Homo sapiens: one gene and its partner. The protein of the gene in region 1 interacts with the protein of each later gene in a pairwise test. Each region holds a gene or a part of one and is shown on either strand. Other genes may lie near its edges.

Evidence for each region.
Region 2: the proteins of AXIN2 (region 1) and ANKRD6 interact in a two-hybrid assay, tested with the Homo sapiens proteins (one study listed by BioGRID).

Annotation. Positions count from the first base shown.
Region 1 is NC_000017.11:65,558,649-65,570,441, reverse strand, and holds the start of AXIN2 (axin-2), read left to right. Parts: upstream 1-8,793; 5' UTR 8,794-8,992; intron 8,993-9,264; exon of another isoform or gene 9,265-9,617; intron 9,618-9,702; exon of another isoform or gene 9,703-9,929; intron 9,930-10,124; exon of another isoform or gene 10,125-10,926; intron 10,927-11,705; 5' UTR 11,706-11,793. UniProt on the Homo sapiens protein: Inhibitor of the Wnt signaling pathway. Down-regulates beta-catenin. Probably facilitate the phosphorylation of beta-catenin and APC by GSK3B.
Region 2 is NC_000006.12:89,427,246-89,438,676, reverse strand, and holds the start of ANKRD6 (ankyrin repeat domain-containing protein 6), read right to left. Parts: upstream 5,526-11,431; 5' UTR 5,302-5,525; intron 5,261-5,301; exon of another isoform or gene 1-5,260. UniProt on the Homo sapiens protein: Recruits CKI-epsilon to the beta-catenin degradation complex that consists of AXN1 or AXN2 and GSK3-beta and allows efficient phosphorylation of beta-catenin, thereby inhibiting beta-catenin/Tcf signals.

The DNA of each region.
Region 1 (11,793 bases):
ATTTTTAGCACAGATGGGGTTTTGCCATGTTGGCCAGGCTGGTTTCGAACTTCTGACCTCAGGTGATCCACCTGCCTTGGCCTCTCAAAGTGCTGGGATTATAGGCGCGAGCCACTGGGCTTGGCCCAAATATGTGATAATTATTGCCAATAGCTTATGCTTGTCGTCATTGACCATCAACGTGCTGTCATTTCATAAAGTACAGAAAAGGGCCGGGTATGGTGCCTCACGCCTGTAATCCCAGCACTTTGGGAGGCTGAGGCTGGCCGATCACTCAAGGTCAGGAGTTTGAGACCAACCTGGCCAACACGGTGTAACCCCCGTGTCCACTAGAACTACAAAAATCAGCCAGGCATGGTGGTGCACACCTGTAGTCCCAGCTACTCGGGAGGCTGAGGCAGGAGATTCACCTTAACCTGGGTACAGAGGTTGCACTGAGCTGAGATCACGTCATTGCACTCCAGCCTGGGCAACAGAGCGAGACTCTGTCTCAGAAAAAGAAAACATAAAAAAAATAAAGTATAGAAAAGATTCACAACCTGTATGTCTTGCAACTGGGTTCTTACCATTAGCAATGTTAACTGACAGGGCGAAGTCTCATCAGCAGGTCAGTTTTCACCACTCCCCTCCCCAGAGGATACATCTTCATCTGTGGGTCCAGAATCTGGACATGGCTTAGCCGGGTGCCTCCTCCTTGAGGTTTCCATGAGGCTACCAGCAAGCCAGCAGCTGGACCTGCATCATGTCAAGGCTTGCCTAGGTGGCGTTCGGCTTCTGAGATCACTTGGTTGGTGGCAGGGCTTGTCCCTCGTCACACGGGTCCCTCAACAGGGATGCCTCAAGATTCTAGGGAAAGCACCTAAGGAAGGAATCGCAGCCTTTCGATAGCCTAATGTGGAGTGGATGTGCTGTCACATCAGCCATACTCTATTTATTAGGAGAGAGTCAAATGCTATCCATGCTCAAGGGGAGGGAAGTATGCAGGGTGTGGAACTAGGAAGCAGGGATCATTAGGGCCCAACTTAGAGGATGCCAACCACAGCTCCTCGTGACACAGCGACTACTGGCTTGACTCTGGCAGGGGGTTTCCAAGACCCTGTTCCAGACCCTAGGCTGGTATCAGTTCTGATTGGCCGGTACACAGGTTTCACCAGCTATTAAATATCGCCCAGGTCCCTCCTTCCCACAATCTAGTTCAAGGGATGCAAGTATCACAAAACACGGTCCCTGTCCTCAGAGAGTTCATGGTTGAGTGGGTGGGACAGAGAAGTAGATCAACCACAGTGTTTGCTAGAGGTGAGCCCCAGATGCCACAGAAGTAGGAGGATGGGCTCTAGCCCGGTCTCGGGGGATGAGGTGGGAGAGGACTGAAGAAGTGGCAGAGGGAGGGCAGTCGGCCAGGGAGGAAAAGGAGAGGCAATCCACCATGCATATGGTAGGGACAAGGGGGTGTCAGCAAGAAATACAGCTGGAGGGCCAGGCATGGTGGCTCACGCCTGTAATTCCTGTACTTTGGGAGGCCGAGGTGGGTGGATCACCTGAGGTCAGGAGATCAAGACCAGCCTAGCCAACATGGTGAATCCCCGTCTCTACTAAAAATATGAAAATTAGCCAGACGTGGTGGCATGCGCCTGTAGTCGCAGCTACTCTGGAGGCTGAGGCAGGAGAATCACTTCAACCTGGGAGGCGGAAGTTCCAGTGAGCCAAGATTGGGCCACTGCATTCCAGCCTGGGCAACAAGAGCGAGGCTCCTCCATCTCAAACAAACAAACAAAAAAAGATAGAAAAAGAAATAGAGCTGGAAAAGGGCCTGGGCTTGGGCCGGCTACCTGTGCACCACACATAGGGTTCTGGGCCTTATCCTGAAGGTTATGTGCAGCCGGGGAGGATCTGAAGCAGGAGAATGACATGGGTGGCTCTGCACTGCACAGCGTTTACCATTGCAGCACTGCGTGAGGGGGGTCAGGGGTTAGGGCTATAAACTGTAGGTGTGAAGCATCATTAGAACATTTGGCTGTCCCTGGCAAGGGCCCTGATAGCAGTTGTGGATTTGCAGAGCAGGAGGTGGTGGTGGGAGATTTTTTTAGAGGCAGAATCAACAGGGCTGGGTGAATGAATGGAGGCGTTTGAGGGAGAAGGCGGAGTCTAGATGTGGCCCAGGTTTCTTTTTTTTTTTTTTTGAGACAGAGTCTTGCTCTGTCCCCCAGGCTGGAGTGCAGTGACGCCATCTCGGCTCACTGCAACCTCCACCTCCCGAGTTCAAACTATTCTCCTGCTCACCCTTCCAAGTAGCTGGGATTACAGGCGCGTGCCACCACGCCCGGCTAACTTTTTGTATTTTTTTTAGTAGAGACGGGGTTTCACCATATTAGCCAGGATGGGCTCTATCTGACCTCGTGATCCACCCGCCTCGGCCTCCCAAAGTACTGGGATTACAGGCATGAGCCACTGTGCCCAGAGGTGAATAAGGCAACTTATTTCAAGCTCAGCTAAACTTTGCTTTCCAGAAGTTGTTTAAAATGAGCAAAATAAGATATCAGAAGGTGAGAAAAATGTCTACGGGGGGCGGTTTAGGAACACGCGTCGCAGGTTGGCGTGACGACTTTAGGGGGATTCCTTTCTATTTTCCAGTTCCTTTTCTAAAAATGACCTTTCGGGGCTGTTTTCTCCCCCAACCTCGCCCTTTGTTTTGGTGTCTCTCACTGTGGAGAAGATCACTTAAGAAAACAGAACCTCTGGTCCGGGGGCGGTGGCTCATGCCTGTAATGCCAGCATTTTGGGAGGCCAAGGCAGGCGGATCACAAGGTCAGGATGGGGGAATCACAGGGCCAACATGGGGAAACCCCATCTCTACTGAAAATACAAAAAAAAAAAAAAAATTAGCCGGGTGTGGTAGCGGGTGCCTGTAATCCCAGCTGCTTGGGAGGCTGAGAAAGGAGAATTGCTTGAACCCGGGAGGTGGAGGTTGCAGTGAATCGAGATCATGCCACTGCACTCTAGTCTGGGCGACACAGCGAGACTCCATCTCAAAAAACAAAAATAAATAAATACATACATACATACATAAAATAAAATAATAATAATAAAGAAAAAAGAAAGCAAAACCTCTTTCTGGATTTGTTTTAATATAGGTATATCGGTGCTCTCCTCTGGTTACAAGCTCAGGCCAACTCCTAAAAGCCAAACTTGAAGACCACGAAGGGTGAGATGCTGAAAAAAAATCAGCAGTTTGCAGCTCTATTTACAATCCATAATAAAAGCACTTGAAAGTCAGTCCAATTAGGAAGTTTTAAATTACTGTTTAACTGTGTTTTAAATTTCATATTAAAAAAAGATATTTTATCAACAAATAAATTCCCCCAACACTTCTGAAGATGGGATTTCTTTTCTTTTCTTTTGAGGCAGAGTCTCACTCTGTCGCCCAGGCTGGAGTGCAGTGGCACGATCTCGGCTCACTGCAACCTCTGCCTCCTGGGTTCAAATGATTCTCCTGCCTCAGCCTCCCGAGTAGCTGGGATTACAGGTGTCTGCCACCACACCAGGCTAATTTTTGTATTTTCAGTAGAGATGGGGTTTTGCCATGTTGGCCAGGCTGGTCTTGAACTCCTGACATCAGCTGATCCACCTACTTGGGCTCCCAAAGCGCTGGGATTACAGGTGTGAGTCACTGCACCTGGCCTTGAAGATGGGATTTCTTAGGGAAACCTTACTTTTCCCCTTGTGGCTTCAAAATCTCCACCTTGGCATTCCCAGTCCCTCCTCTGCAAAGGGGAGAGGAAGTAGGTCCATTCCTCCTTAGGTGGATCAACTCCACGGAGATGCCCATGTAAATGGCTGCCACTCTAAAAGACGTGGGTCAAACTGTCCCAGATCAGGCTGTGGGTAGCCCAGCTGGCAGAGCCAAGGCAACCTACCTACAGGTAGGGGCTGGATGAAGCGTGCCTTAGAGGGATTTCAGACAGAAGCCCTGTTGTGATTCTTTCAGGAAAGTATCCCAGATTGTATGTATTAGTCCTGTTGTAAAAGTCAAGACCTCCAGATGGTCTCACCCCCTCCATCTCAGCCAGCCCCTCCCTGGGTCTCCTCACTATGGTGTGGAGGAAAAAGAGGCTGGGCCAGGAGTCAGGACCCCTCAGAAGTTCCAGCTCATCTCTGATATGGGCAAAGTGATCCTGGGGAAATCTCACTTTCTCTTTGCTTAATTTGTCTGATTTCTTTCTTTCTTTCTTTCTTTTTTGGAGACAGAGTTTCGCTCTTGTTGCCCAGGCTGGAGTGCAATGGCGCAGTCTCCGCTCAATGCAACCTCTGCCTCTCGGGTTCAGGCGATTCTCCTGCCTCAGCCTCCCGAGTAGCTGGGATTACAGGCATGCATCACCATGCTCAGCTAATTTTTGTAATTTTAGTAGAGACAGGGTTTCACCATGTTGGACAGGCTGGTCTCGAACTCCTAACCTCAGGTGATCTGCCCACCTCAGCCTCCCAAAGTGCTGGCATTACAGGTGTGAGCCACCACACCCAGCCAATTTGTCTGGTTTCTTAAATGAAGGGTTGGACTAGATAACTCTTGAATGGCCCCTGGGCTTATTTCTTTCTGCATAGGACTATCCTTGAAAGATGGTAGCAGGGCACAGCCTCCTTTATCTCCTTTAGGCCCCCTATGGTCAGCCTCCTGGGGTCATTCTTCCCCAGATCGTCACTCCCAATGGACGGTATCTTTGCTTTGGAGATAGGGAGTTTCTTCCCAGAATAGGTAACAGGCTATTGAGGGAACAGACTTACTCTGTGAAAATAACCGCCATGTTCTATTGTGTGTCCAGCTCTGTGCCAGGCATTTATCGTATTGCTCAGGCTCACAACAGCCTTTGCAGGGGAGGTTTCCTCCAGTCTACAGGTGAACAAATGGAAACTCCGTGTGGTTAGGTAACCTCCAGTCTTAGGAAAGGTTACCTGTGTCTCTCTTCACCTTCCTCCCCAAACAAAGGTACATTGTCTAAGGCAGCACTTTTCCAAAGGAATAAAAGACAAAGTTACTGAATCTGAGAGAGCAGTGTCCTGGGTCTCAGCTCCTCTGAAGTCCCAGCTGGTGTGACTTCCCCTCCACAGTGGTTTTTGTGGGGCTGACTAAAGGTCAGAGATCTGGCCAGATGCCTCCCAGGGAGCCCTTAGTCCTTGTTTTCTGGGATTCTAGGATTTCAGCCCAGTATATAATTCCAGCAAAGAATCACTCTCTGCTTTATTAAACTTGTCTGCACTTAGGCAAAGTGGACTGTTTATCCTCCGTAGGGTTTTTCTTTAAAGGTGGAGCGGGGGGGCGAGTGAGCATGTGCAGAAATCCATCACCTTGCTTTCCAGTTTCCAGGCAACCGTGCAGGATTACAACAAGTCACATGATAGCGCTGCTGCCAGGGACAAGGGGAAAATGGAAAACGTGCTATCTTGAGAAACGGGCTGCTATAAGCACAGGACTTTGGATTCTCCTCTAGAAATATTATCAACAAGTAGTCAGAGACCCAGAGGCTAGAGAGAGGGCTTTCCAGTACTTGGCCCAGCCTCCTGCTGGGAGGGAAGTGTCCCACCAGATATAAAGCTGTAGGAAAGGGGACAGGCCAGGGGTGATGGTGGAGGGAGTCACTGCCCTAAAGTGACCCGAGCACCTGTTCTGGAAACCATGCTCTCAGAGGAGTTATTTTTTATTTATTTATTTTTTGAGACGGAGTTTGCTCTTGTTGCCCAGGCTGGAGTGCAATGGCACGATCTCGGCTCACCACAACCTCCGTCTCCTGGGTTCAAGCGATTCTCCTGCCTCCGCCTCTCAAGTAGCTGGGATTACAGGTATGCGCCACCATGCCTGACTAATTTTGTATTTTTAGTAGAGAAGGAGTTTCTCCATGTCGGTCAGGCTGGTCTCGAACTCCTAACCTCAGGTGATCCACCTGCCTTGGCCTCCCAAAGTGCTGGGATTACAGGCATGAGCCACTGCACCCCGGCCCTCAGAGCAGTTATTATTGACCGAGAAGATCCAAACCAAACCGGGCCTTGCTCCTGGGTCCCCAGTCCCAGTCCCAGTCCCCTCTTGCTACAGTCGCAGCCATGGGATAATGAGGTAGTCCTTTGGTTAAAGTTGAGCCTACAGTGATTAGGGCTGGTTGGGGGAGGCAGTGACGGGTCGGTGGGGACAACTGGGAGGAGAGGAAAACCACCCACAAAGACCAAGTTTCCACTTCCTTTTTGAAAACCTCTTTTTTCTGAACATTGTTTATTTTGATTTTAGATGTTTTGATTTTTCTCTCTCCCCCACCCCCCACATTGTGTGTGTGTGTGTGTGTGTGTGTGTGTGTGTGTGTGTGTGTGTGACTTTACTGTTGTTTATATGGTAGACACTTTTATGGCAATCCATACCCCTCTGTCTACATTTCTGTTCCAGTAATAACACCCTCTGTGGCCCAAAGACTCCCTGGAACCACAGTGACAGTTTTACTCTTGGCACTCCTGGGGTGGCCAAAGGTGGTGGCTGTGTTCTTGGCCCTGGGCCAGCTCAGAGCTGGTGGCTAAGAGGGTCCATGGGCCACTGACCCCCCAGAATACCAGCAGGCCGGGGCTTTTAGAGCCCACTGGTTTCCTCACACCAGCAGTTGTCCTAAGGCAAAGATGAGTCATCGGGCCACACTCTTTCCCTGGCCTTCCTGGCTGGCTTCAGGGCCACATTTCAGGGCTGGTACTGCTGTCTTTATGCCAACCTGGCTGCCTGGGGTCGAGAGCCTGGAGCTGCAGACCATGGGCACCGAAAGGCAGGTTTTGGGGAGGAGCGGCCACCTGTCATGGCACCCACGAGCCAGAGTCCAGAGTCTTAGACTAGAAAGTCTAAGAGCTTTCTAGTCCCTTGTCACAGTCCCTTAGGCTGAGGGCAGGTGGCGCACAGTCCTGCCACCTGCCCCTTTCCAGCAGATCATGGGTGGTGGATCTTCCTCCTCTTTTTTTCTTTTCTTTTTTTTTTTTGAGATGGAGTCTTGCTCTGTCGCCCAGGCTCACTGCAACCTTAACCTCCTGTGTTTAAATGATTCTCCTGCCTCAGCCTCCCGAGTAGCTGGGACTACAGGCGCCCCCCACCACGCCTGGCTAATATTTGTAGTTTTAGTAGGGACAGGGTTTCACTATGTTGGCCAGGCTGGTCTCGAATGCCTGACCTCAGGTGATCCGCCTGCCTTGGCCTCCCGAAGTGCTGGGATTACACGGGTGAGCCACCACACCCAGCCTCTTCCTTCTCTTTTTCTATGGATACCTAGATAGAGCCACAATTCTTGCATGTTTTAAAGTTCTGAAGGCCTAATGACAGGCCATCTCGCATTTAAAAGGGCTCGTCATCCATTAAGTTGGAGAGTAAGAGCCTTGCACAGCTCTGAGGCCAGGACTCTGCCTTTCACTTCTTGGATCTCTTTGGTTCACACCTTTATGTGTGTGTGTGTGTGTGTTTTTTTTTTTTTTTTTTGAGGGAGTCTCGCTTTGTCACCCAGCCTGGCGTGCAGTGGTGCCATCTTGGCTCACTGCAACCCCCCCACCCCCGTCTCCTAGGTTCAAGCGATTCTCCTGCCTCAGCCTCCCGAGTAGCTGGGACTACAGGCACGTGCCACCACACCCGGCTGATTTTTGTATTTTTAGTAGAGACGGGGTTTCGCCATATTAGGCAGGCTGGTCTCGAACTCCTGACCTCAGATGATCCTCCAGCATGGGCCTCCCAAAATGCTGGGATTACAGGCATGAGCCACCGTCCCCGGCCCTTTGTTTTTTAAAAGGAAGAAAAGTTAATTATTCGCTCATAACATAAGGAATCATTCTATAGCAGCAGCAGAATAAATACACAATGCTCTGGGTTTGTGACATATTTTCTCATTTTAACGGAGAAGAGAAGGTTGTGTGTGCCTTATAAACGTTTTTGGGCAAATGTGGGAGAAATTCAAAGGTGACAATGGGGTGAGGAGTTTTCGATACATTAAAACGGCATGCATGCCTTGTCGTTTGGAGTGGGAAAAAAGATATTCCTATCGGTTTAATATGTAACATATGGCAGAAGAGGGGACTTTGGAAGAGTAACGGGTATGCAGTTGTTTGGGAGAGATGGCCAATGTGTGCCGCTACGAGGGTCTTATGGCCAGCAGGTTAGGAAGCTGGACCTAGGTCTTCAGGGCACTGAGGTATGCCTCCTAACTGGTGTTAGCACTCAGGCCTATACTGGCGGATTCACACCCCACTTTCACACATGCACAAACGCAATTCATCCACCAACTGCAGTCCTATATTTACCCGAACTCAGATGCACGTGCACAAGCGCGCACAGGCATGCACACGCCTCCAGCGGCTGGGCCCGAGTCCGCCCTATGACAGCGGGCCAGCCAACCCCAGGGCCGGAACTCCCTTTATAAAGTCCTCCAAGCCCAAATTCCCAGGGAAACTTGAATAGAGGTAGAAAAGCGTTTGATGATAGAAAAAAAAAAATCTGCTTGCTTGCAGTTCTTGCGATGGCCATAATGCTACCAGAAACTGTTGCATTCCAGAGCCGGGGAGAGCGAGGGCAGGCAGGGGGAGGAGGCGGGAGCAAAGAGGCCGGAGAACTTAAAAGAAGAAATCAGAACTCGGGCTGAGAATGCCCTCGGGGCCGCGGGGGGCTGGCAGGGGGCGGAGGAGAGGCCGGGGAAGGGTTAACGCGGGAGCGGAGCGTGCGGCGGGGGCGGGCCGGGGCGGGGCGGGGCGGGCGCGGGGCGCTGTCCCTTTAAGGCGGGCGGCGCGGGCCGGCCGAGCGCGGCTGTGATTGGCGCGGCGGGATCACTGGCTCCGCGAGCCTGGCCCGGGGGAGTCGGCTGGAGCCGGCTGCGCTTTGATAAGGTCCTGGCAACTCAGTAACAGCCCGAGAGCCGGGAAATAAAAATAACCCCTCAGAGCGATGGATTTCGGGGCCGCCCGGCGGCCGAGGCGCCCGCCGAAGGCCCTGCTGTAAAAGGTGGGGGTGGAAGCTCGGCCCCAGCGGAGCCGCTTCAAAGAAAGCCCCCCTCTTACAGGGGGCGAGGTCGCGCCGAGCCGCGGCGTGGGCGCGGGGGGCGGGAGGGGGCCCGGCCAGGCGGAGGCCGGGCCTGGAGGGGGGCGCGGGCGGGGCGGCCCTGCGGAGCGGTGGCGGGGCTGCGGGGGGCGGCCCGGGGCGCGGCCGGCGCGTACCTCCCTTTCAGGACCGTGCGCTCGGCTCGCGCCTTTGAAGTGCACAGTTAAATCCACAGCGCAGTTTTTGTTGGAAGCGCCCGGAGGACATTTGGTGCGCCGAGTGACTGCTGGAAACAGGACCTGCGTTGAAAGCCGGGCCGGGCGGGGGCGGAGGCCCGCTCGGATCTTTTGCATAAAAGGGGCGGCGGGGCGCGCCGTTCCCCCTCCCCGGCCGGTGGCTTTCGCTCTGAACCCGGGATTGTTGTTTCCCGCACCCCCTCCCCCGCCGCACGACTCCCCATGTTCCCCGACGCCGCGGCCGGCCCGGGGGGGCCCGGGGCTGCCGCCGCGAGCCGAGCCGGGGGCCGGGGCCGGGCCCCTGCCAGGGGCGCCTGCGAGGTCTCGCCGCCGAGCGCGCGCGGGGATCAATGGTGAGTGCCGAGGCCGAGGCGGCCGGGCGGACCGCGCGCTTTGATGTGCGGGGCGGCCCTTTGAAGTTGGCAGGCCGGCTATTTCGGGGCGCGCTAGGGGCCGGCGCGGAGGGGAGCGGCGGACCCGGCGCCCAGCGTTCCGGGGGGCTTGGCCGGGCAGCCTTGCGCGCCCTGCGCCGGAGCCCCCTCCCCAGCGCGGTGACCGGGTTGGCGGGGGGCCCAGAGAGGAGACTTATCCGAGTGGCGGCAGTGGCGGGGGCGGAGAGGGGGCAGATACCCCCCGGGGGTCGCGTCGCTGTCGCGGTTATGGATGTGAGTCGGCGTGTGAGTGCGCGCGGGAGTGCCTTTGGGAGGTGGGATGAAAGGGTAGCGGCGCCCCCCGCTTGCCCTCCCCCGCCCCCCGCCTCTCCTCCGCCCCATCCTCTCCTCCTACTTCTCTTCCCCCTCCCCTTTTCCCCTCCCTGCCGCGGGTCCGCGCTAAGGGGCCCACAGCGCTGGCGGAGGCTCAGTCTGCGCGCAGGACCGGCCCAAGTCCGGGGCGCCCGTGTCCCTCGCGTCCCTCCTCCCGGCCCGGGCCCCTCGCCCGTGGCCGCCCCGGCCCCTTTTGCGGAGAGGCAGAGACTCCGCGCGTCGCCATTTCTGGACTAGGCTGCTGCTTTCTGTGCTTTTTCTGCGGGCGCCTCTGCAAACGGCGGCGCCGGGGACCGACCCCCCGCCCGGGCTCGGGGCGCTGCTGGCGTGTCCCGGGGTTCCGGCCTCGAGGTGTGCCCGCCAGGGCTCTGGAGGCGTTCAGTTGCATTTGGGCCGGGGGACCGGGCCGGAGGGGCTCGGAGGACATGAGAGCCTGGCTTCGGCGGCCTTCGTCTTCCAGGTAACGGGGCCGCTCCACCTCCCACCGCCCGGGTAGCGCGGTGCCAACGGCAGCCCCACTTCTCCGTGGGCCGCGCCGCCCAGCCCCGCGGCTCGAGGCTCTGGTCGGGTTCAGCGTGCACCCATCCCAGATCCGGGGTCCCTGGCTTCTCGCCCGGGGTTGCACCCCGTTCAGCCCCTACCCTTCTTAGTTTGATCTTTTCCGTGCTAGGGAAAGCAGCTTGTTTATTGGTTAGATAAGACTTTTTTCTTTGGAAAAAAGACAGGCTTGAAATCAGTAGAGTTTGGGATTCTTGGCACAGGCAGTAGTGGCGTGAGACGGCTGGTGATCCAGTTTTGTAGGTTTCGCGGATCCGGGAGGTGGGTTGGGGGCACGGGGGCGACGGTTCCGAGGCTTCTCAGCTCTCTCTCAAAGTTTGAAGATGAAAGTCTCCCCTGAGTGAGTTGGTTTCTGGTTTGGGGGGAGGTCAGGGAAGACAGAGGTGTTGACTGAGCTGGATTCTTGGTGGGGGTAGGGGGCGCGTAGCGAACACTCAAATCTGAGTTGGGGAGGGGGTGTTTGCGTGCTGAATCTGGGAGTCCGGGAGCCCAATCCGCCTATGCTGGGCGGGCTTCTCTTGGGCCAGGATCTTCTGAATTTTTAAGGAGTGGGAAGAGGGAGCGCAGAGGGAGGGGGTGGGTGGGGAGAATGGGAACCAGATGCCGGGGAAGGGCACGTTTGGAGCTCGAGTTATCTGTGCAGGGCCGAGTGGGGAAATATACCGAAATTGGTTTCACCTGCACACAGCCTAGCGGCTGGGAGTGCGCCTTTTTGGAGTTGATGGTATCGGGGGAGGGGAAGGGAGGGAAGGCGAGGCGCGGGCTGAGCTGCCCTGCGTGCGCCCTGGCCGAGTGGGTTTTTGGAAGGTTGTGTCTTACACCTCCAGTGTCCCCCTGCCGTCCCCAGCTCTTGCCTTCCTCTCACCTTCCCCGCCTCTTTCCCAACAGCTCCCTCCCACCCCCAACCCCGAAAAGTGTGCAGGGAGCTCAGATTTCGCTTTTGAAAAGCAGCGCCTGATACTTTAGATGAGCACCTCGCAGATAGCTGGGTTGCTTGATTTGAATTTGAGGAGTTGAAAAGCCTGTTTACTTTCTTGCTTTGATGTTGGGTAGATCTGGTTTTGATTAGATCAATACCCTTTTCTCTCTCCCCACCTCCCCCCTTCCTTTTCTTTCCAGAGAGGAGGTTCAGATGAGCCCCTGCTGACTTGAGAGAGACAGAGAGACCACGCCGATTGCTGAGAGGAACTGGAAGAAGAAAAATTCC
Region 2 (11,431 bases), on another chromosome or scaffold:
AGCGAGATTTTGTCTAAAAAAAAAAGTTAGAAATAAATTACATAAAGGCAGTTACACTTAATTGACCAGTTAAAACACTAGCACCTTATTGTACAAAAAATGGCTACTCATCCACCAAAGAGTTCTATTCCTTTCCCAAAGTAAATTATTTTTACTAAGAAACAGTTGCCCAGCCAGGGACTGTATTTCCTAGCTTCCTTGAATCTAGTTGAGGCCATGTGACTGGTTCTGCCAATAGAATGTAAGCAGAAGTGATGTGTTTCCCTTGCTGGTGAAGGCAGTCAACACGGTTTCCTTTTGCCATACTCTTTCCCCCTTGCAGTGACTCTGGAGACCACATGAAGATGGTGGCATCACAAGAAGGAATGAACCTTGATCCCTGAGTCACCTGAAGGACAGCTACCCAGGAGAGCTGCCCAACAGGAATAACTGATTAGGACTTGTGTGAGCTAGATTAAACCACTGAGGTTTGGAAATGTTTGTTACAGCAGTTAGCCTACCTTACAGCATACAGAATATACCTGTATCGGTGAAAGACTCAAATCATGATTTATTGAAGTATTTCTAAGATAAATGCAACTATTGAGGAATCATATGTATAAGAAGAGCTTGCAGGTTACCATTTTTGCCACTTACCTACCCCATTCATCTGAGTTTAAAACCAGTGTGAGCCTGGGCAACAAGGTGAAACCCTGTCTCTACCAAAAATACAAAAATAGTAGGGCGTGGTGTTATGTGCCTGTAGTCCCAGCTACTTAGGAGGCTGAGGTGAGAGGATGGCTTTGAGCCCAGGAGGCAGAGGTTGCAGTGAGTTGAAATTGCACCACTGCACTCTAGCCTGGGTGACAGCGAGACCTTGCCTCAAAAATAAAATAAAATAAAATGAAACCAGTCTGAATGAGTAGAGACCTACTTATTAAGTAAATTCTGATATTTAACATCTTTTCTAACACTGTGTAAATTCTATAGCTCATCTGTATCACTGGATATGAAACAAGGTAGGACGTATTGTATGCTATATTTAGAATACATTTGGAACATAAAGTGTAAACCAGAAGACACTCTTAAAATTAAATTTGCCTCCCCCAAAGCAGAATGTACTGGACTTCAGTCATTCAGTACCATCTTCATGAGTTTTTCCATAGCTGTGTACCTAATATATTATTATTTACTTCATATTTTTCTAGACCTAAGGAGGGCACAGAGAGATGTGGCAGTTGTGAGACTTCAGTTCCACATCTGCCCTATTCAGAAGTCCAAGATGTTCATTCTGGGACTTCCTTTGGCTCTTGAGGAATTGGTCCTGGAGTTTTCAGGATCCAGATGAATAGCTGGGGGCTCTGAGGAAAAAGAACTGGTCGGGCTTATCTGGGGTCTGAGCAGAAAGAAAGCCTCTTGTAACTGGTGGGGGAAAGATATGTCAGAGAACTGAAATGGGATAAGACATCCAAATAAAGGGGCCTTTTATGGGGTGGGGGTAGGTAGGAATCTGTAAATATTTCCTTATAGCGCTTACTAACCTTTTTTGACTTAGGAAACCATTTGAGAATCTGATGAAAGCTATGGAACTTCTTCCCCCTCAAACATACATAAGAGCATTCACTTAAATACTTATACATAATTTTGGGAGATCTTAGAGTATTTGTAGCCCACCACTGAACCCCAGGTTAAAAATTCTTATTTTAGTGACAAATTTAATAGCTGATCCTCAGGTTTATAAAGGAACCCACCAGTAAATAATGCAGACACTTCCCTATAAAAGAGAGAGAACATAGCTATTTCTTCCATCTCTTCCCCCTTGACGGGATGAGGAAGAGCTGGGAAATAGAGATAATGTCACCCCTAAGCTTTTCTCTGCTGCTGTCCCTAACCTCAGTGCCTTGGTACAGTCCAGCAGTGGGGCACCATCAACAGAATTTGTTTTTAAAAAACGTTTAAAAACTTTATTTTGAAATAATATTAGTCTTACATAGAAGTTGCAAAAATAGTACATGAATTCCCTATTCTGTCCTCCCCCTACCCCTGGTAACTACCATTCTACTTTCTGTCTCCATGTGTATGACTACTCTAGGTACCTAATATAAACAGAATCATACAATATTGTCCCTTCTGTGACTAACTTATTTCACCTAGCATAATGTTTTCAAAGTTTACTATTTTGGACCCCCTGACTGGGTGTTTTGCAACTATAGCAAATTAAAATGGGCAATGTAGAAAATCTGAAAATTTCAATGGAAACTAGTATACCAAACATGTCTGGACACTGCTGAACCTATTAACTGGAGGTAGTTTGCAGTTTCAACAGTAGATCATGTTACATTCCTATCCAAGACAATACATCTTTGCAAAGCTGGGTTTTCTGTGGCTGCTGTGATAAAAGCCAAATGCTGCGGAAATATTAATGTGAAACAGGAAATGAGAGTGGCAGTGTCCAACACGATCCCAAGGTTTGAAAAGTAGTATAGGCACACACATACGGTTAGTAATTATGACTTTAAAGGATGTAAAATATTTTTTCTCTCAGTTTATGTATATTATTTTTTCAAACAACTTCTAAGTAAATACTCAGTTGTTTGAACCTAACTACTAACTACTGAAACCTAAGGGAATTGTGAAAAAATTACTAACTACTGAAGCCTAAGGGAATTGTGAAAAAATTAACTCAGACACTAAGGGCTCCATGAAACCAAGTTTCAGAATCTTTGCCTTAACCAAGAAGTAACAAAACAGTGTAAGATTCACCAAGGAAAGCCATGTGACCTTGAAGAAATAAAACAAAGACAATAACACAAACATATCAACCAGGAAGAGGAATTTGGGTTGTTAAAACCATTTTTAAAGGTCACTCTTAGCTTAATCCTTCAAATCCCACACAATGCCTTCTGGATAATTTGCATTTTTAAAAAAACTTCTAAAACGCACGCACCCAAATTACTGTTTTCCCACTTCTTAGGGACTCAAGCAAAGCTTTTAAAATCACAGCCATCAATCTATGTTGGAAGAGACTGGGTCTCCCCTACACAGACAGAACACACCTTCGGGATCCGTGCCAGGGAGACAGGAGAAACTTGGAAGAAGACAGAGACTAAAAGATCCCCCGACTTTGAGACTTTCGGCTTTTTTGTGGTTTGTATCTTACCCTCAATAGCCTGCTTTTAAGTTCAATAACAATGCTCCTTGAGAAAAAAAGAAAAATAAAGAATGCTCCAGGTTATTGTGGAAATGCTTGTTGGGAAACTTCCTTTCCTCAGGGTTTTTCATATAAGCAAGGGAAAAAGTTAACACAACATCCAGAATAGTGGTTCCTTGGGTGGGAGGCGAGAAGTGAGTGGAAGGCAATGGAGAGGGGTACTCAGGGGCTCCAGGGGCCTGGCGATGTTCTAGTTCTTCAGCCGGGTGACTCGTACTTGGGTGTGATCTATTGTTATTCTTTACATTGCACTCTAAGGTTTATACTGTCTGAGTGTATGATGTATTTCACAGTGGCAGCACCAGCATCTCTATACAAGAAGGAGGCCTTGGGAGTTGGAAGTGTGCCTTGTCTCTAAGCTGAGTTGGATCGCAGGCAGTCTGCTTTTACATGGAGCATATGCTTATCTGGAAAGGCTTTGGGGAGGCTGATGAGTTTAAGTGGGAGACTAAGATTAATTTTTGGTGCCACCATGAAAAAACAAGGAGTTAATAAATTCACATTTTTAAAAATTACCATTGGTTTATACCTCCCAACACTGCGACTAGTTGTTTTCTGGTCTCTTTAATTCCTCTTCATCCCTCTTCTACCCTTCCCCCATGTCCAGTATGACCTAGAGGGCAGAAAATACTCCCCAATTTTAATTTGTATCCCTAATTTTTAAAAAATTTTTTGTTACCATATGCTAAACAAATACTAAAGATGACAAAGTGTAACATGTATCGGTATAGACACACCTACTACACTCAAGAACAAGGCTGCAGACCAGTACAGTGGCTCACACCTGTAATCCCAACACTTTGGGAGGCTGAGACAGGAGGAGTTCGAGACCAGCTTAGGCAACACAGTGAGACTCTGTCTCTAGTAAAATAAAAAAATTCAAAATTAGCCAGGTGTGGTGGTCCCAGGCTGAGGTGGGAAGATCGGTTGAGCTAAGGAGGTCAAAGCTTACAGCCTGGGCAACAGAGCGAAACTCTGTCTCAAAACAACAACAACAAAAACCCCGCCAAGGCTGCTATTGGTGTTTTGGGGATGAGAAACCCCCAATCAGTATACCATGGATGGGACCACCTTGGACCCAGGTGTGTTTGTCTTCATTGCCCAAGTTCTTTCCACTTACACTGGCCTAACAGAACCTAAGCATGAATGAATTCAACATCCAACAGGTTCGCAAAAGGTGTCTAACACACAAGAGTACAATGCCAAGCATTTCATTCCCATCACTTCACTGCATGAACACAATACTACGAGGTTATGTACAATACCTGCAGTTTAGAGTTCTAAAAACTAAGGTTTAAAGAAGTGGGTTTTCCAAAGTCACACACCTAACAAGTGGTGGAGTCAGAACTCCATCTCACGGGCCCGAAGTGGCTCTTTACTACCACGTGACCCATCTCATGCTACCTCGCGGGGGAAACATTCTTGACCAGCTTTGAGACATTCAAGTCCCTCTTGGGTCACAAATAATGCTGCACTTCCCCTCCAGTCCCCGAGATCTACCGGAAGCAACACACTTAAAAGCCCAAGATAAGCTTGGGTGAGCTGATGTCTGGACCCAAACCAGACAGCACGCCGACTCTCTGGACCCCGGGAGATGCCACTTGCTGAGGCTTCGCCGATGGGGCTCCTGAGGGGTATCGGCCCCTCTCCTGCGACTGCACCCTAGTGCTGTCGTCCAGGGCGGGGAGGGACGGGGTCATTCGGAGGCGGCCGCAGGCCAGGGACCTACCCTCCTACGCGCCGCAGACCGCGGGGTACTCGGACCCCCGCCCCCACCGCCCTTCCTTCAAACTGCAAGCGAGCAGGAGAACGAGGGACGAGCCCCAGAAGAAAGTTCTCCACCTCCCTCGCCCGAAGTTCCATATTCCAGGGAGGCAACTGATGCCAGGCGAAGAGGGAGGCGCCCCGGGGGGACCCCCTCGCGCCGGGCGTTTTCGGAGGCCGCAGGCCAGGGGGCGAGGCGCGGTGTCCGGGTCTCCTCCGCGGGCAGTCGGCGATCCTGGGGTGCCGAGGGAGCAGCGCCCCCTTCCCCCGACAGCGTCCTCCCCGACCTGAGGCGCCCACCCCGGTGTAAGCGGGGGTCCCAGGGAGCCGGCGAGGTCGCCTGGTACCTTTCTCTCCCGCGCCGGACGTCCGCGCCGCAGGGACCAAGGCCGGCGACACGGTGGGGGGCGAGGGGCGAAGACGGGGACTGGCTCCCGCTGGCTCCGGCGGCCCCAGGGCCTCGGCGCCGCCCAGCGCCGTGCCTCCAGCCGCCCGCGCGCCAGGCAGCGCTCTCGGCTCCTGCGGGTTACCTGTGGCCGAGCCCGCCGCGTCCGCCGCCGCAGGGCCCTCTGCCCCGTCCCGCCGGCCCCGCCCCACCCCTGCCGGCGGCTCCTACGCCGGTGCCGCAGCGCCTCCCAGCGGCGAGCCGGGGCACGGCAGGGACCCTCGCGAGAGAGAGGTGGCACCGCGGAGGCCCTGGGGCTGGCCCCGATCTGCAGCCCTCTCCTGGGTGGGGCCACCGCCTTCTGAAGAGTGGGAGGAAGGGGGCCTATAGTAGGGTGAGGTTTTCCGCGTGGGGGTTGCCAGGAAGTGTATTGGGAGGGGAGGAGAATTAGCAGGAGGAACCTCCCACCTTCACTCAATTCGTGGCCAAGTGGATATTTCAATATAACCATAGCTCACTTAACTGGGGCTGCTCAGTACAAACTGAACAACAATGATGAATGACCCAGATTTATTGGGGTAGCTGGAGAGGGGAAAGGAAGCCTTTATTTCTAACAGCTTGACTATAAGTATCTTGTTGGAATCATCCCATATGGAAATGGCAAAAGCATTGAGCGAGCCTGACCCCCATATTCATATCACACTTTACATACCATTATCTCAGTCTGGTTTTGTCTATTTTCATTCACAGCCACTTCTTCAATACCTAGAAGAGCTCCCTGAACACAGGAAGCATTCAATAAGCTACTGTTGAATACATGTAAGATGGATGGGATCTCATTCCACCCTTTGAAGAAGCATGGACAGGTATCTGCTCTCCAAAGGCGGAGAGATGGAAGAGGAGGCAAGCAGCACCCTAAAATGGACTATCAATCTTACCTGAGGTTTTGGGACAAGCTTATCACGAATCTGATTTTTTTTTCTTTCTTGCTTAAAATTTTTTTTTGAGACGAAGTCTCACTCTGTCACCCAGGCTGGAGTGCAATGGCACCATCTAGGCTCACTGCAACCTCCGCCTCCCAGGTTCAAGTGATTCTCCTGCCTCAGCCTCCTGAGTAGCTGGGATTACAGGTGCCCGCCACCATCCCTGGCTAATTTTTGTATTTTTAGTAGAGATGGGGTTTCACCATATTGGTCAGGCTGGTCTCGAACTCCTGACCTCGTGATCCTCCAGCCTCGGCCTCCCAAAGTGCTGGGATTACAGGCATGAGCCACTGCACCCAGCCGACTTTTCTTATTCCCTCTGAAACAGGCCTGGTTTCCAGGAGAAAAGAAACATGATGATTTCTTCCTTTTCCTTAAGATGTTTGTTTCCCTCTCTCCTTCAGGGATCATTAGGCAGGAGAGATCCCAAGAGCCTGTTTCCACACTAGGAAGGGGAAGTTCTTGATTTTCTCCTACTGCTTCTGAAATTTTCCCAACCCCATAGTCACAGCTGCAGTTTTACCTAACAGGATGTGAAATCTCTCTTCTGAGTATCCTTTGGCCTTTTCCAGACTTTTTTTTCCCCCTTAAGATGGGGCCTTGCTGTGTCACCCAGGCTGAAGTGCAGTAGCCCACTGCAGTCTTGAACTCCTGGGCTCAAGCAATCCTCCTGCCTCTGCCTCCTGAATAGTTGGGATTACAAGTGTGCACCACCATGCCCAGCTAATTTTTTTATGTTTAACACAGAGGAGGTCAAGGCTGGTCTTGAACTCCTGGGCTCAAGTAATCCTCCGGCCTCAGCCTCCCAAAGTGTTGGGATTACAGGTGTGAGCCACCGCGCCCAGCCCTTCTTCAGATTTGTGCCCCATTCCTGTTGCTCTACACCTGGAGCTGATAGAAGAACACATTTCCTTTCTCTGCTGGCTTGTAGCTCCAGGTTTCTCTCCAGGCAGGTTACTAATGAGTTCCTAGATAACCCTCAAAGTCAAAGTTTGTACACATGACCTTTCTTTTTATTTTTTGAGATGGAGTTTTGCTTTTATTGCCCAGGCTAGAGTGCAGTGGTGCAATCTCGGCTCACTGCAACCTCCACCTTCCGGTTTCAAGCAATTCTCCTGCCTCAGCCTCCCAAGTAGCTGGGATTACAGGCGCCTGCCACCACGCCCAGCTAATTTTTTTGTATTTTTAGTAGAGACGGAGTTTCACCATGTTGGTCAGGCTGATCTCGAACTGCTGACCTTGTGATCCACCTGCCTCAGCCTCCCAAAGTGCTGGGATTACAGGTGTGAGCCACCGCGCCCAGCCACATGACCTTTCAATGTGATCATTTCTCTCTTGTACTTTTCCACATTGAGTTTTCCTAGCTAGTCCCTCGAATAAACTTCCAAAGATGCAAATGCTCAGTTTCCCTGATAGGCTTTTAAAACATCACCAGAAAGTCACATTGAGATGAGATTTTAAGTTATATTTGTGGGTAGTCAGAGCAATGACCCCGAAAGAAACAGAAAGCCCAAGCCAGCCTGCAAGACATGTGAGCGCTCCTGGGAACTGACTGGTCTGCTTTTGTTCCCAGACTTTGATTAATGGGGATTCCTGGCAGGAGGTCTCATGAGAGCCAAAGCAGGCAGTGGCTGAGCTGCTTGGAGATCTTGCTTGCTTATCTCCAAGTGGGCAGACAGTCTTTGGGCGACCAACGAAGAAGACTCCTAAATCTCCCTCTTTATGAGAAGGGCTCCCAGGCTGCAGCTCTGTTCTTGCCCCTACGTTCAGCTCAATCACAGCCAGCCTCTTATATTCACCCTAGCTCACCCTCCTTCTGCCTTGTGAGAAAGAAGTTTGCTCTGCAAATGATCATTTTCACTGCTTTGTGATAATATAATCTGCTCCTATTTTCAACAACATGTCTTTAATGAGCTGACTGCATTAGCTGTCTTTCATGTTGTTAGCTTCAACGCAGCCTTCAACACACCATTCTGGCTTCCATCCCTGCCACTCCACTGAAACTGCCTTTGCTAAAGCTTCCACTCAAGGAAGAACCCTTCCATCTGCCGCTCTATAATCATATCCTTCTCTTTCAGAGGAAACCACCATCCTAAGTTTTGTGTTAATAATTATGTTATCACAAATATATGTGTCCCTAAACACTACATGGTTTGTTTTTGCGTGTTTTTGAGCTTTTTTAAAATAGAATCATTCTGCATTATTCCCATGCAACTTGCAGCTTTTGCCCAGCATTATGTTTCTGAGATTCACCTATCTGATTTCTCTGTTATATAGGTATTTTGTTGTAAAAACATAACACAATTTAATTACCCATTCTACTTTTGGATGTTGGATTGGCTCCAGTTTTTGCTATTGCAAACAGTGTTGCTGTGAATATTCTTAAATATTTCTCCGATACATGTGTGTAAGAATGTTTTTTAGGATATATACCTAGAAGTGGAATCATCAGGTCTTAAGGTAAGTGCACGTTCAAATTTACTAGGTAATGTCAAACTGTCTAAACTGGTTGTTTTCTAAAATTGTTTTCTAAAGTGGTCATACCAATTTTCATTTCTAACACCTGTATATGAAAGTCATCTGGCCGGGCATGGTGGCTCACGCCTGTAAATCCCAGCACTTTGGGAGGTCGAGGCGGGTGGATCACGAAGTCAGGAGATCGAGACCATCCTGGCTAACACGGTGAAACCCCATCTCTACTAAAAATACAAAAAATTAGCCTGGCATGGTGGCGGACGCCTGTAGTCCCAGCTACTCGGGAGGCTGAGGCAGGAGAATGGCGTGAACCCAGGAGGTGGAGCTTGCAGTGAGATCGTGCCACTGCACTCCAGCCTGGGTGACAGAGCGGGACTCCGTCTCAGAAAAAAAAAAAAGAAAGTCATCCATGTCCCACAATCTTTGCCAGCACTTGTTTTCATCTAAATGATCTCTCATAATAGTTGTAGTTTGTATTTCCCCAATTACCAGTATGGCTGAGCATCTTTAATGTTTAATAGCTAGTCCTGTTTCCTCTTTTGTTAATTGATGGTGTCTTTTGCCTTGTTTCATGTGTTTTGAGAAGTCCTTTCTGACCCCAAGGATATAAAAATATTCTCCCATATTTTATTTCAAGTGTTACAATTTTGTCTTTCATGTGTAAGTCCACATTCTATCTGAAATTCATTTCTCCTTTCATTTGCAATGCCAGAACTCTCTTACAATGGATTTTTATACACATATAGGTTTGTTTTCGGTCCTCTATTTTGTTCCATTTGTCTATCCCTCTGCTAGCATCATACTGCCTGAAATCTTTGGTTTTCTTTTTTTTTTCTTTCTCTTTCTCTCTTTCTTTTCTCTTTTTTTTTCTTTTTGAAAGAGCCTCGCTCTGTTGCCCAGGCCAGAGCATAGTAACATGATCTTGGCTCACTGCAACCTCCTTCTCCTGGGTTCAAGTGATTCTCCTGCCTCAGCCTCCTGAGTAGCTGGGATTACAGTTGCATGCCACCACGCCCAGCTAATTTTTTTAAAATTATTTTTTAGTAGAGACAGGGTTTCACCGTGTTGGCCAGGCTGGTCTTGAACTCCTGACCTCAAGTGATCCACCCGCCTTGGCCTCCCAAAGTGCTGGGATTACAGGTGTGAGCCACTGTGCCTAGCCTGTGGTTTTATTTCAAGTGTTGATTTCCAAATATACAAGTCCTACCCTGACTTATTTCTCTTTTTTATTTATACAGATCTCAAGTATTCTTAGCTCTTTTCTCCTTCATAGACATTTTCTAATTCATTTGTTATGATAAACTTGAGATTTTAATTTGAAATCTCAAATCTCAGTAAATATATGTGGTGGATTGCATTGTTCATTCACAATTATTCGTACCCTTTCCATCTTTGCCATGCTTTTCTATAGGTCGGGTAAACCAGTCTGCTCCATTGGTTTTGGGCTTGTGTTGACTTGCCTTGGCAAACACCACATTGGAACAGAAGCTTAAAATATGTTGTATGCTTTAGTGCTTCCCCTACCTCCCTTGAGCTTCTGCCATTTGCCATGAGAATATCATGCCCCAAAGAGTGGCTGCACCTTCCGTGGGGATCCAGAATGAAAAGACAAATGGAATCATGCAGAGTCCAATATGGCCACAAAAAGTCTGCAGCCTTCATGTAATAGAAGCAAGAATGTTTCCTACTACTGCTATTTGGAAAAAATTGGCATCTTTATGATATTAAGTCATTGGTACAATGTGTGTGTGTGTGTGTGTGTGTGTGTGTGTGTAGCTCTGTGCAATTTTATCACATATGTAGTTTCATATAACCACCATTCTATCAAAATACAGAACTATGCCATCACCACAAAGAATCATCCTCATGCTACTTAATTATAGTTACACCCAACCCCCTCCCCGACACCATCCCTAATCTCTGACAACCACTAATCTGTTCTCCATCTCTATAATTTTGTCATTTTAAGAATGTTACGTAGGCCAGGCGCGGTGGCTCATGCCTGTAATCCCAGCACTTTGGGAGGCCAAGGCGGGGGCGGATCACTTGAGGTCAGGAGTTCAAGACCAGCCTGGCCAAAACGGCAAAACTCCATCTCTACCAAAAATAACAAAAATTAGCTGGGCATGGTGGCATGCCTGTAGTCCCAGCTACTCGAGAGGCTGAGGCAGAAGAATCGCTTGAACCCAGGAGGCAGAGGTTGCAGTGAGCCGAGATCACACCACTGCACTCCAGCCTGGGCAACAAAGCAAGATTCCATCTCAAAAAAACCCAGAATATTATGTAAATGAAATCATACAGTATGTGGCCTTTTGAGGCTGCCTTTTTCTTCATTCAGCATAATGCCCTTGAGATTCATCCAAGTTGTTGTGTGTGTCAACTGTTGATTCTTTCCATTGCTAAGTAGTATTCCACAGTGTGGATATACTACAGTTTGTTTAGCCATTCACCCATTGAACAGCATCTGGGTTTGGGTTATTATGAATAAAGCTGCTGTGAACATTCATATACATGTTTTCATATGAACATAGTTTTCACTTCTCTGGGATAAGTAACCAGAAGGGCAATTGCTGGGTCATTTTGTAGTCGCATGTTTAGTGTTTAAGAAACTGCCAAACTGTTTTCCAGGGTGGC